Linked DNA regions of Homo sapiens. The protein of the gene in region 1 purifies or fractionates together with the protein of each later gene. This does not show direct contact. Each region holds a gene or a part of one and is shown on either strand. Other genes may lie near its edges.

Region 1 (2,893 bases):
CCAATCATGGAAGCAAGGAAGCCTTGTGGTGTGAGTGGAAGTGATCTGGCTCCCAGGCTCAGGTGGCCTGGAGTGTTACTGTAGGAGAGGCTATGTGGATATACAAAACCTTAGCCACCTTGGACAGAGTTCAGCATGGACTGGGACAGCCTGCCAATCAGTCCTGAGCAGTCTTGGTGATGCTCTGAGGTGTTGAAAGCCTGGGCTGTGGAGAAGGATGTGTCAGAGCATGAGGGGGCACTGGGATGTGTGTGTGTGTGTGTGTGTGTGTGTGTGTGTGTGTGTGTGTATGGGGGGTGTTGGACCTTTGTTGCCACTGGAGGATGTGACTGGAGAAAGTGAAAGCCCCAGTAAAGAGGAGAATCATACATGGATTAAGTTGAGCTGGGCCCTTGGAAGGGGACAAGCTCACCAAGTGACCAAGTGTAGAATGTGAGAATTAGAGGGAGAAGCAGAAATAAGAGGAGATGTTGATTGTCAAAGGAGGTCCACTAGGGATATCTCTTCTAAAGACTCTGAATGGTATGTGGAGAGGTTGAGGACACTGTTCTGCAAACCAAGGATAGAAAAGAAGGCCAGGAGCAGTGGCTCATGCCTATAATCACAGCACTTCGGGAGGCTGAAGTGGGTGGCTTGCTTGAGCTCAGGAGCTTTAGACCAGCCTGGGCAACATGGTGAAACCCTATCTCTACAAAAAATATAAAAATTAGCAGAGCATGGTGGCACATGCCTGTAGTCCTAGTTACTCAGGAGGCTGAGGTGGGAGGATCATTTGAGCTGGGGGAAGTCAAGGCTGCAGTGAGCCAAGATCACACCACTGCACTCCAGCCTGGGTGACAAAGTGAGCCCCTGTCTGAAAAAAAAAAAAAAAAAAAAAAAAAAAAAAAAAAAGGAGAAGGAAGTGGCATGAAGGAAAGCTGTAGGCACAAGATAATTTAAAACACTCATCTAACATGGAGACAGTAACACTATCCTGGCTGTTCCACATCATCCAATGAGGGACTTATTAACTTCCTAATAGAGCTCCTCCTCTAATCTGTTTCCACTGGACAGCCCTTTCCACACTTTAGTTCTACATACTACAGACTTTGTCTGATCCTGCAGACAATGGGGAATCATCAAGCATGTTCATCAACTAAAAGGAAAAACACTTTGGGACTGCTAGGGTCCTCAAAGGCCCTAACAGTCCTTCACAAATTGGTACTAATGTCTATCTACAGCTTTATTTTTTTGCTATTCTCCCCTTTATTCCAGCCACACACAAAGCATTTGTACTTGCTCTCTGCCTTCTTGGAATGCTCTTCCCTTCTACACATAACTAACTCCTACTCACCTTTCAATTTCCAACTCAGAAGCATCTCAGCTATGCAAGGGCTTTCATGTAATTCACCCACTGAGTGAAGAAGTATTTTGTATCATTTCAGATCACACCACCCAAATTGCTGCCTCTTGATGATGACCTCTTGGCTAACATACACAACATGACTGAATTCATTTTTCTGGTACTTTCTCCCAACCAGGAGGTGCAGAGGGTTTGCTTTGTGATATTTCTGTTCTTGTACACAGCAATTGTGCTGGGGAATTTCCTCATTGTGCTCACTGTCATGACCAGCAGAAGCCTTGGTTCCCCCATGTACTTCTTCCTCAGCTACCTCTCCTTCATGGAGATCTGCTACTCCTCCGCTACAGCCCCCAAACTCATCTCAGATCTGCTGGCTGAAAGGAAAGTCATATCTTGGTGGGGCTGCATGGCACAGCTTTTCTTCTTGCACTTCTTTGGTGGCACTGAGATTTTCCTGCTCACTGTGATGGCCTATGACCACTATGTGGCCATCTGCAAGCCCCTCAGCTACACCACCATCATGAACTGGCAGGTGTGTACTGTCCTTGTAGGAATAGCATGGGTGGGAGGCTTCATGCATTCCTTTGCACAAATCCTTCTCATCTTCCACCTGCTCTTCTGTGGCCCCAATGTGATCAATCACTATTTCTGTGACCTAGTTCCCCTTCTCAAACTTGCCTGCTCTGACACCTTCCTCATTGGTCTGCTGATTGTTGCCAATGGAGGCACCCTGTCTGTGATCAGTTTTGGGGTCCTCTTAGCATCCTATATGGTCATCTTGCTCCATCTGAGAACCTGGAGCTCTGAAGGGTGGTGCAAAGCCCTCTCCACCTGTGGGTCCCATTTCGCTGTGGTTATCTTGTTCTTTGGGCCCTGCGTCTTCAACTCTCTGAGGCCTTCTACCACTCTGCCCATAGACAAGATGGTGGCTGTGTTCTACACAGTGATAACCGCGATCCTGAACCCTGTCATCTACTCTCTGAGAAATGCTGAAATGAGGAAGGCCATGAAGAGGCTGTGGATTAGGACATTGAGACTAAATGAGAAATAGAGGCTGAGTCTTTGTATTGATACTTGGGTTTAGAATGACTGTTGAGTCCAAACTGAAGGAGCAGAATAGGTTGAAGGAAAGTTCACAGGACCTGTTAGTTGCAGATTATTCTACCTGGCCTCTCTCTTTAAAAAGTTCATTTTCATAACTTGAATAGTATTTCTTTTTGTGGAGGTACTAATTTTTTACCACCATAAATAACACTGTAGTTAATATTCTTGAATAGACATTTTTAACCATGCTTCTGACTTTCTTTTAGGCTTATTTCCTAGAGTGAATTTAGTGTTAGAGTATAAAGACTTTTGGTGCACAGTGTTACACTGAGTCACCTATCTTGTGAAAGTGCTCTTGACAGAATAGAATCCTGTCATTAAACACTTTTTTTTGGATAAGAAATGATTTTACATTGTTTCAAAGTATCTTTCCTTAGGACACCAAGGGGTATTAATTACAGAGAGAAAAATGTAACTTTATAGCCCTTCCCCTCTAAACCATTGCCC
Region 2 (4,032 bases), about 21 Mb from region 1:
TCTACACCCTTTGCAGTTTTCGCCATCACTTGAATTAAACTTTCACCTCCTCTTGATTAAACAGTGATATCTATTGACTCCTTAAAGATGAAATAGCTCATTCCCCACCCAAAATTTGAGACTTTCATTGTATTTGTGAGTTTTTTTTTTTTTTTCTGAGAGGGAGCCTTTCTCTGTTGGTCAGGCTGGAGTACAGTGACACAATCTCAGCTCACTGCAACCCCCATCTCCCAGGTTCAAGCCTCAGCCTTCTATGTAGCTGGGACTACAGGCGTGCGCCACTACGCCCAGCTAGTTTTTGTATTTTTTAGTAGAGACGGAGTTTCACTATATGTTGGCCAGGCTGGTCTCGAACTCCTGACCTCAGGTGATCCACCCGCCTCGGCCTCCCAAAGTGCTGGGATTACAGACGTGAGCCACCACGCCCAGCCGTATTTGTTACTTCTATTTCGGGACCAACTCCATCAGTTGCACCTGTAAGCTGCGTCACCAAGGACCGGGAGTGGGTGCAAGGCTGGGAACGTGCGGTGCAAGCCCCTGCCCTCTGTCCACCCGCAGCGTCCCAGGCCGGGATCTGTCTTGAGAGCTCGAGTGTAGAAAAATGTTTTATTTTATTTTATTTATTTTTTTGAGACGGAGTCTAGCTCTGTGGCACAGGCTGGAGTGCAGTGGCGGGATCTCGGCTCACTGCAACCTCCACCTCCCGGGCTCAAGCGATTCTCCTGCCTCAGCCTTCCAAGTAGCTGGGATTACAGGCGCGTGCCACCACGGCCAGCTAATTTTTGTATTTTTAGTAGAGACGGGGTTTCACCATGTTGCCCAGGCTGGTTTTGAACTCCTGACCTCAAGTAATCCGCCTGCCTCGGCCTCCCAAAGTGCTGGGACTACAGGCGTGAGCAACCACGCCTGGCCAGAAAAATATAACTGAAGCCCAAGGTCAGAAGCCAAGCTAGGCAGTCCCACTTAGCGCTGCCCGAGTTGATGGGGACCTCAGTTTCCCCACCTGAGCCTGGATCGGCTGAACCTGGGAGTGCCTCCCCTGACCCGCTCTGGCAACAGCGGCAGTCCAGGCCCCGCCCCTCGCGACTCTGTCTCCTCCCGCCCCAGACCACGCCCACCACACCTCCCTGGCCCCGCCTTTACCTCCCCGCCCCGACCTCGACTCCGCCCCACGCCCAGGCCCCGCCCACTGCCCGGGCGCCTCTTCCCCTCCCCCCAGGTTCCTGTCCCTCACCCTTCCCCCTTCTCCAACCGCCAACGGCCGCCTGCGCCTGAGGCCCGGCCCACGCCCCATCCCGCTCGCTCCACGCTGCGGCAGCCCCGGCGGCCCCAGGTGCGTCCCTCCGAGGAGGAATGACGGGGCGGTCCCCGGGCTGGGCCTCGGCTCTGCAGGCGGGGATGGGGGCTGCCGGGCCGGGTCGGGCCCCTGCGGGTGGGCGGAGGGCGGCGGGCCGTGGGCGAGGCCGCCCCTCACCTGGTCGCACCTCACCTGGCCCCCCCTCCCCTGGCTGCTCCTCACCTGACCCCCTCCTCGGCCGCCCCTCACCTGGCCCCCTCCCCTGGGCGCCCCTCACCTGACCCCCACCCCGGCCGGCCCCTCTCCTGGCCGCCCCTTACCTGGTCGCCCCTCCCCTGACTCCCTCCCCTGGTCGCTCCTCACCTGGCCGCCCCTCACCTGGCCCCCTCCCCTGGCCGCCCCTCCCCTGGTCGCCCCTCCCGTGACCCCCTCCCCGGCCGCCCCTCCCCTGGTCGCCGCTCACCTGACCGCCTCCCCTGGTCGCTCCTCACCTGGCCGCCCCTCACCTGGCCGCCCCTCACCTAATCGCCCCTCATCTGGTCGCCCCTCCCCTGACCCCCTCACCTGGTCGCCCTTCCCCGGGCCCCTCACCTGGCCCTCCCTCACCAGGCCGCCCCCTCCCCTAGCCGCCCCTCACCTGGTCCCCTCCCCTGGCCGCCCCTCCCTTGGCTGCCCCTCCCTTGGCTGTCCCCTTTCCTGGCCGCCCCTCCCCTCGTCCTCTCCTCTGGCTGCCTCTCACCTGGCCGCGTGTTGCAGGTGCGCGGCCCCCGCCATCCCGCCCCGCCGCCCTGCGCCATGGAGGAGGGCCCTCTGCCGGGCGGGCTGCCCAGCCCCGAGGATGCGATGGTGACGGAGCTCTTAAGCCCCGAGGGTCCGTTCGCTTCGGAGAACATCGGCCTGAAGGCCCCCGTGAAGTACGAGGAGGACGAGTTCCACGTCTTCAAAGAAGCGTACCTGGGCCCGGCGGACCCCAAGGAACCCGTCCTGCACGCGTTCAACCCCGCGCTGGGCGCCGACTGCAAGGGCCAGGTCAAGGCGAAGCTCGCGGGGGGCGACAGCGACGGCGGGGAGCTCCTCGGGGAGTACCCCGGGATCCCAGAGCTCAGCGCGCTGGAGGACGTCGCGCTCCTGCAGGCCCCGCAGCCGCCCGCCTGCAACGTGCACTTCCTGTCCTCGCTGCTACCCGCGCACCGCAGCCCGGCGGTGTTGCCCCTGGGCGCCTGGGTCCTGGAAGGAGCCTCCCACCCGGGCGTCCGCATGATCCCAGTAAGAACCGCCTGGGGAATGGGCACAGCTCCCCCTCCATCCCTTCCCCAACCCATCTGAGGCTGCTAGTGTACCCCAGGATTTCCCTCTACAAGCATTTTCCCTGGTGACACCACACACAGCCCACCGGAGTCACTGATTCTCGGTAGAGCGTATACTCTTTGTCGTCTTCCTAATCCAACATGCATCGGCCCAGCCAAGCCCTTTCCCCTGGAGGGAATTCTGCCCTGCACCAGTCGTCCAAAGCTGACCTAACCATGCAGACGGCGGACAACAAAAAAAGGGGGAAAGCTAGGACGTAGGTTCCCTTGGGCCCTGTTGCTATCCTTGGCTTAAGGAGAGAGGCCCGCTGTCTGCTGGTAACTATTGTCTGTGAAAACAAACGCAATGTGGTGGAGGGTTGGCGTGTTTGCATCTTGCATTTTTTTTTTCCTTTAACTTTACCAGGCTTGGAATCCACAGCAAGGACTCAGAGTTAATACTTGGATTTTCCGGGCCTTGAAGTCAAGATGTGAGATCTTCCCTTTGCTAATGAGTAATAGCTCTTCAAGCATATGCAATGTAAATCAGAGCCTAAAGAAATGCTTGCCAGCTCTCAGCCGACTGCCCTCTCTAGCTGTAGATGACCGCTGATAATTTTCCGCTTTGTTCTTGCCAAAACTAATGAGTTTTCAAAGGAAACAAAGGGTCCCAGGAAAATGTGTTCTCGACCCCTCAAAAAGGACCCAGCTCAGAAAACGAGACCACTCATCCATGAGGTCATTTTAGTAAGTTGTAGATGAAGCGTTTGTGGGACACAATGCTTGAGTCAGTATTGAGATGGCTGGAGCCTGACCCTGTATCATAAGCCAGAGCAGCAGGAGCTTGGATTTCTGCTCTTCCGGTTTTCTGTTATGGTAATTGCCAGTCCTTAGTGTACAGGAAAAGGATGGGCAGAGGCTGGGGCCTCCACTGACCTCTGTTTGTCCTCAGAGGAGCCATAGAGCTCACCAGTTCCCCCAGCCGTTTCCCAGGACAGAGGTCTTTCTCACAGCCTTTCTCAGAGGGCTTGAAATGTTAAGAACTGCATTTTGCTGCCCAGCCGGATTGGTGTCCAGCGCCTCCTGCCCGTAGGTCCTAGCTCGGCTCATTTCCTCACAGAGTGGAGTCAGAAAGCATTAATCAGAACAGGGAAGATAATACAAAAATTAACCGGGTGTGGTGGCGCACACCTGTAATCCCAGCTACTCGGGAGGCTGAGGCAGGAGAATTGCTTGAACCTGGGAGGCGAAGGCTGCAGTGAGCCGAGATTGCACCACTGCACTCCAGCCTGAGCGACAGAGTGAGACCCTGTCTTAAAAAACAAACAAAACACACACAAGAGAATTCTCTGATGTTAAAGATAGTAAAATTCTCTTTAATCCAATTTTAAGAGATTGCTGGTCTGACAAACTAAAGGAGAGACTTTGCTTTTTAAATTTTTATTGACT
Region 3 (4,207 bases), on another chromosome or scaffold:
TTGACTGGCGCTCAGCGACGGCTGCACGGCACAAAGGGGACACAGGACCCCACCACCCCACAGCTTGGCACAGAAAGGGAGGAGCCACGCTGACTGTGGAACCCCAGGGGGCTACTTAGAGCCATCCCGTGGGAGGTTGTGGGGGTTCATGCCCCAGACAGAGAATGGGGACCCAGCAGGGACAGAGCTGGGGTGGTCCATGCGTTGTTCGGGGACTCCGGGGAACACAGGGCAGGGCATCTGCAAAGGGACGATTGGAGAGAGTGTGACGATGAGATCACTGGAGAAGCGTGAGGAGGGGCCAGCCAGCCGGCACAGCCCAGTGGGCACCTGGGGATCGGTCACAGAGGGAAGCCGCCACCAGCCTGGGCCTGTGCACTGGGAATTTCAATGAGTTCTGGGTCCCCGCCCCAGCCTCTGTGTCTGTCCCTTCGCCCCCATGCCAGGGACTTACTTCTCCTAACTGAGTACTGTCATGAGCCCATTCTGCAGGGGAGGGGACTGAAGCCCAGAGAGGTCAGGGGACTTGCCCAAGGTCACACAGCAGAGCGGGGTCTGGGATTTGAACCTGTATTTAGCTGACCCTGAAGTCCTTGCTTTTATATATGCTTTAAAAACAAAACAAAACAAAAAACCCTTTCCATTTCCATAATGAAAGCCTCCAAACATACAAAGTAACAGAACGGCAGAGTAAGGCCTGGGCCGCTTCCTCTGCCCGCCTCCCATCCCCGTTCCTTACTGTCGTGATTTTTATGTTTCTTTTCTGAAGGTAAAGTGTCTATACATTGAGACATAGAAATCATACCATTAGTGGAATGTATTGGACTTGAGCTAGTCAATCTGACATGTGCATTTATATTTTCTTTCTGTGGTATCTTAATTATCTTACTTTACTAACAGTGAGCAGATAATGCTTTTATAATAAGGGAAAAAACAATGCAATTATGATAAAAACGTGAAAGACGCTCCTTTGAGCTGGTTCCTTGCCCCACCCTGGGGAGCCCGAGTTTACTCTGTGTGTCTGCACCCCCCACCTGAGCTTTTCCATGTCCCGCCCACCTGAGACTAGACCCCAGAAAGGCCAGTGGCAGGCTCGGGGCAGGCAGCTTCCCTGAAGGGAGGGAGGAGCCCAGTGGGCAGGACCCACACATGTGGCCGCACGCAGGCCTGAGCCCCCTAAATCTCTCCCTGCTACCTCCTGGGGAGCCCCAGCCACTAGCCCCATTCCACAAGAGCCTCCATCTTCAAAGGGAGAGTGTGGGCCTCTGTGGGGTGCCCTCTTCTCTCAGCAGCTCCTGAGCCAACGCGAGGCTGGGGAGGCCGGCCTCAGGGAGGCATTGCCCGGGCGACCGGCTCCTCCTAGGGCCTGCCGTGGGCGGCCCCATCGCCTAGCAACCGGGTGGCAGCGTCCCTTGAGCCCAGGCCACACAGCTGCACCCAGCCCTGCCCGGCTCCTCCCAGGCCTGCAGGACCCCTGGGGCCCTGTCCTTATTCCCCAGCACCGGGACAGCCAAAGCTCTGGTCACAATGAACATCGTCTTCTCCAGGTGAGTGGGCCAGCGCCAGCCTGGCTGTGAGGGAGGTGGAAGTCGGGTTTTGAGGCCCGGGGCACCAACAAAGATGAGGGCAGCAGGGCCTGCTGCTTGGGGTGGGGGTTGGGGGTGAGGGGAGCTCTCCCTCCCACGGTGCCTCCACCTCCATCCAGCTCAGGGAAGACAGGGCTTGGGACTACAGAAGCTTCCAGAATCTGGCCTCCGTCTGCTTCTCCAGCATCGCTGCCTGTGTATCTGGAGGAGTCAAATTCATCCCCTTTCCTTTCTCGCCTCCACCTGGAAAACCCCCATCACACCTCAACCCCAACCAGGCCTCCCCCTTCTGTGGGGACCCAGTCCACACTGCCCCGGCCCATGCCATCCCTGCTCTCACAACCTGCCTGCCCTGCCCCGTTCATTTCCACGCCTGGTTCCTCTGAGGTTCGAATTCCAGGCAACCTCTCAAGCAACCAATGTGTTTTTATCTTTTATTTTTTTGAGATGGACTCTCACTCTGTAGCCCAAGCTGGAGTGCAGTGGTGCCATCTCGATCTCGGCTCACTGCAACCTCCATCGCCTGGGCTCAAGCGATTCTCATGCCTCAGCCTCCCAAGTAGCTGGGACTACAGGCGTGCTATTACGCCCGGTTAATTTTTTGTATTTTAGTAGAGACGGGGTTTCACCATGTTGCCCAGGGTGGTCTTGAACTCCTGAGCTCAGGCAATCTGCACACCTCGGCCCCCCAAAGAGCTGGGATGACAGGCGTGAGCCACTGTGCCCAGCCTGGATGTGTTTTTAAAACGCAGCTTCTCAGGCCCCCTCCCAGGGATTCTGGTGCACATGCCTGGGGTCGGGGGCCTAGGAGCCCCAGTGTCTGACTTCTGACCCCTGTGCTGCTGAATCAGGGGCTGTGAGGACCCTACCTGCGGGAACAGAGGCTGTGTCTGGCTGTGTGACCGGTAGCAAGATGCTTCACCTCTCTGGGCCTCAGTTCACTGCATTTTCACATGGTGATACCAGCAGCACCTTGCTTATAGGGCGGTGCATGTGGAGTGTTTTGCAGTGAGGGTGGCAAGAGAGTTAGGGTCTGTCGGGACAGAGGGCTGCTCCTCAGGGCGTTTCTCGAGTCAGGGATTTGATGAGAGGGTTGCACGGGGGACTTTGGTCACAGGGAGAGAGGCAGGGACAGTTACACGCTGGGGATGAGGGAAAGGAGAGGGCGTGAGGAGGCCCAGGAGAGGCCAGGCCTCCCTGGCTGTCGTAGAAGCCTGAATGCGGTGGATCAGTCATCGCGCACCTGCTGCAGGGGGGCGCCGGATTGGGAGCCCTTAAAGGTGAGTTGGGGCCGAACGTGGTGGCTCATGCCTGTCATCCCAGCACTTTGGGAGGCCAAGGCAGGCAGATCACCTGAGGTCAGGAGTTCAAGACCAGCCTGGCCAACATGGTGAAACCCTGTCTCTACTAAAAATACAAAAATTAGCCAGGCATGGTGGCAGGCGCCTGTAATCCCACCTACTCAGGAGGCTGAGGCAGGAGAATTACTTGAAACCAGGAGGCAGAGGTTGCAGTAAGCCAAGATCATACCACTGCACTCCAGCCTGGGTGACAGAGCAAGACTCTGTCTCCAAAAAAAAAAAAAAAAAGGCCAGGTCTGCAGCCAAGCCCGCATTTATATTCCTGCCCACTACTGACCAGCCCAGGCAGATCCCCCTCATCAGCCTCAATGGCCGTGATGCTGCCACCTTGAGTGACAGCCTGTGGCATGTGCGTGCCACACCAGAGGCCGGCTGGTGGCAGCTCCTGTTTTCATAGCTATTGTCTGCTCTTGGCATGACCGGGGCCCTGCATCTCTGCCCAGAATGGCTGCTCAGGTCCCCGCCTCCACAGGGACAGCCAGGTGAGGGTGATGGAGAATACCGTGGCCAACACCGAGAAGTACTTTGGGCAGTTCTGCTCGCTGCTGGCCGCCTACACGCGCAAGACGGCCCGGCTGCGGGACAAGGCGGACCAGCTGGTCAAGCAGCTCATCGACTTTGCCAACTCCGAGAACCCCGAGCTGCGGGCCACCATGAGGGGCTTCGCTGAGGACCTGGCCAAAGTGCAGGATTACCGGCAGGCCCAGGTGAGTGCTGCCGGCCCGGGTCTGGGATGCTGAGGGGTACCCAGGCTCCAATGCCAAGGTCAGGCCTGAGGGCTGCAGGAGCCCTGCTGTGGCCACAGCCAATGGGTGTGTCTCCAGAGACATCCACCGACAATGGACATTTACACCCTTTCCAGGGTCACACCTCCACCTGCAGGATTGAGAGCCTAGGAGGCTTTGCTGAGTCGGATGAAGGGTCAACAAAGCAAGGAAACCCAGGAAGCCAGCCCTGGGGGCTCCATGAACCCCCGAAGGAGACACATCCAAGGCCTATGAGGGCCTCGGGAAGGAACAGAAATCCTGGTGGGGAGTCAGGGGCAAGGAGGCTGCAGGGTGTTCAGGAAATAATTAAAAATAGAAATTCCTGCCAGCCCAGAAAACTCCTCACCATGAATTGTAGAAAAGAATAAAAAAGGGCCAGGTGCTCACACCTGTAATCTCAGCACTCTGGGAGGCCTAGGTGGACAGACTGTCTGAGCCCAGGAGTTTAAGATCAGCCTAGGAAACATAGCAAGACTCCATCTCTAAAATAAAT

The links.
Region 2: the proteins of OR4X2 (region 1) and TESMIN purify together in Homo sapiens (affinity purification with mass spectrometry; one large-scale study listed by BioGRID and IntAct). This does not show direct contact.
Region 3: the proteins of OR4X2 (region 1) and CIBAR2 purify together in Homo sapiens (affinity purification with mass spectrometry; one large-scale study listed by BioGRID and IntAct). This does not show direct contact.

The regions. Positions count from the first base shown.
Region 1 is NC_000011.10:48,243,623-48,246,515, forward strand, and holds OR4X2 (olfactory receptor 4X2), read left to right. Parts: upstream 1-1,481; coding exon 1,482-2,393; downstream 2,394-2,893. UniProt on the Homo sapiens protein: Odorant receptor.
Region 2 is NC_000011.10:68,748,721-68,752,752, reverse strand, and holds the start of TESMIN (tesmin), read left to right. Parts: upstream 1-1,232; 5' UTR 1,233-1,333; intron 1,334-2,053; 5' UTR 2,054-2,092; coding exon 2,093-2,563; intron 2,564-4,032.
Region 3 is NC_000016.10:85,109,673-85,113,879, reverse strand, and holds the start of CIBAR2 (CBY1-interacting BAR domain-containing protein 2), read left to right. Parts: upstream 1-1,407; 5' UTR 1,408-1,527; coding exon 1,528-1,547; intron 1,548-3,419; coding exon 3,420-3,654; intron 3,655-4,207. UniProt on the Homo sapiens protein: May play a role in ciliogenesis. In cooperation with CBY1 may facilitate ciliogenesis likely by the recruitment and fusion of endosomal vesicles at distal appendages during early stages of ciliogenesis.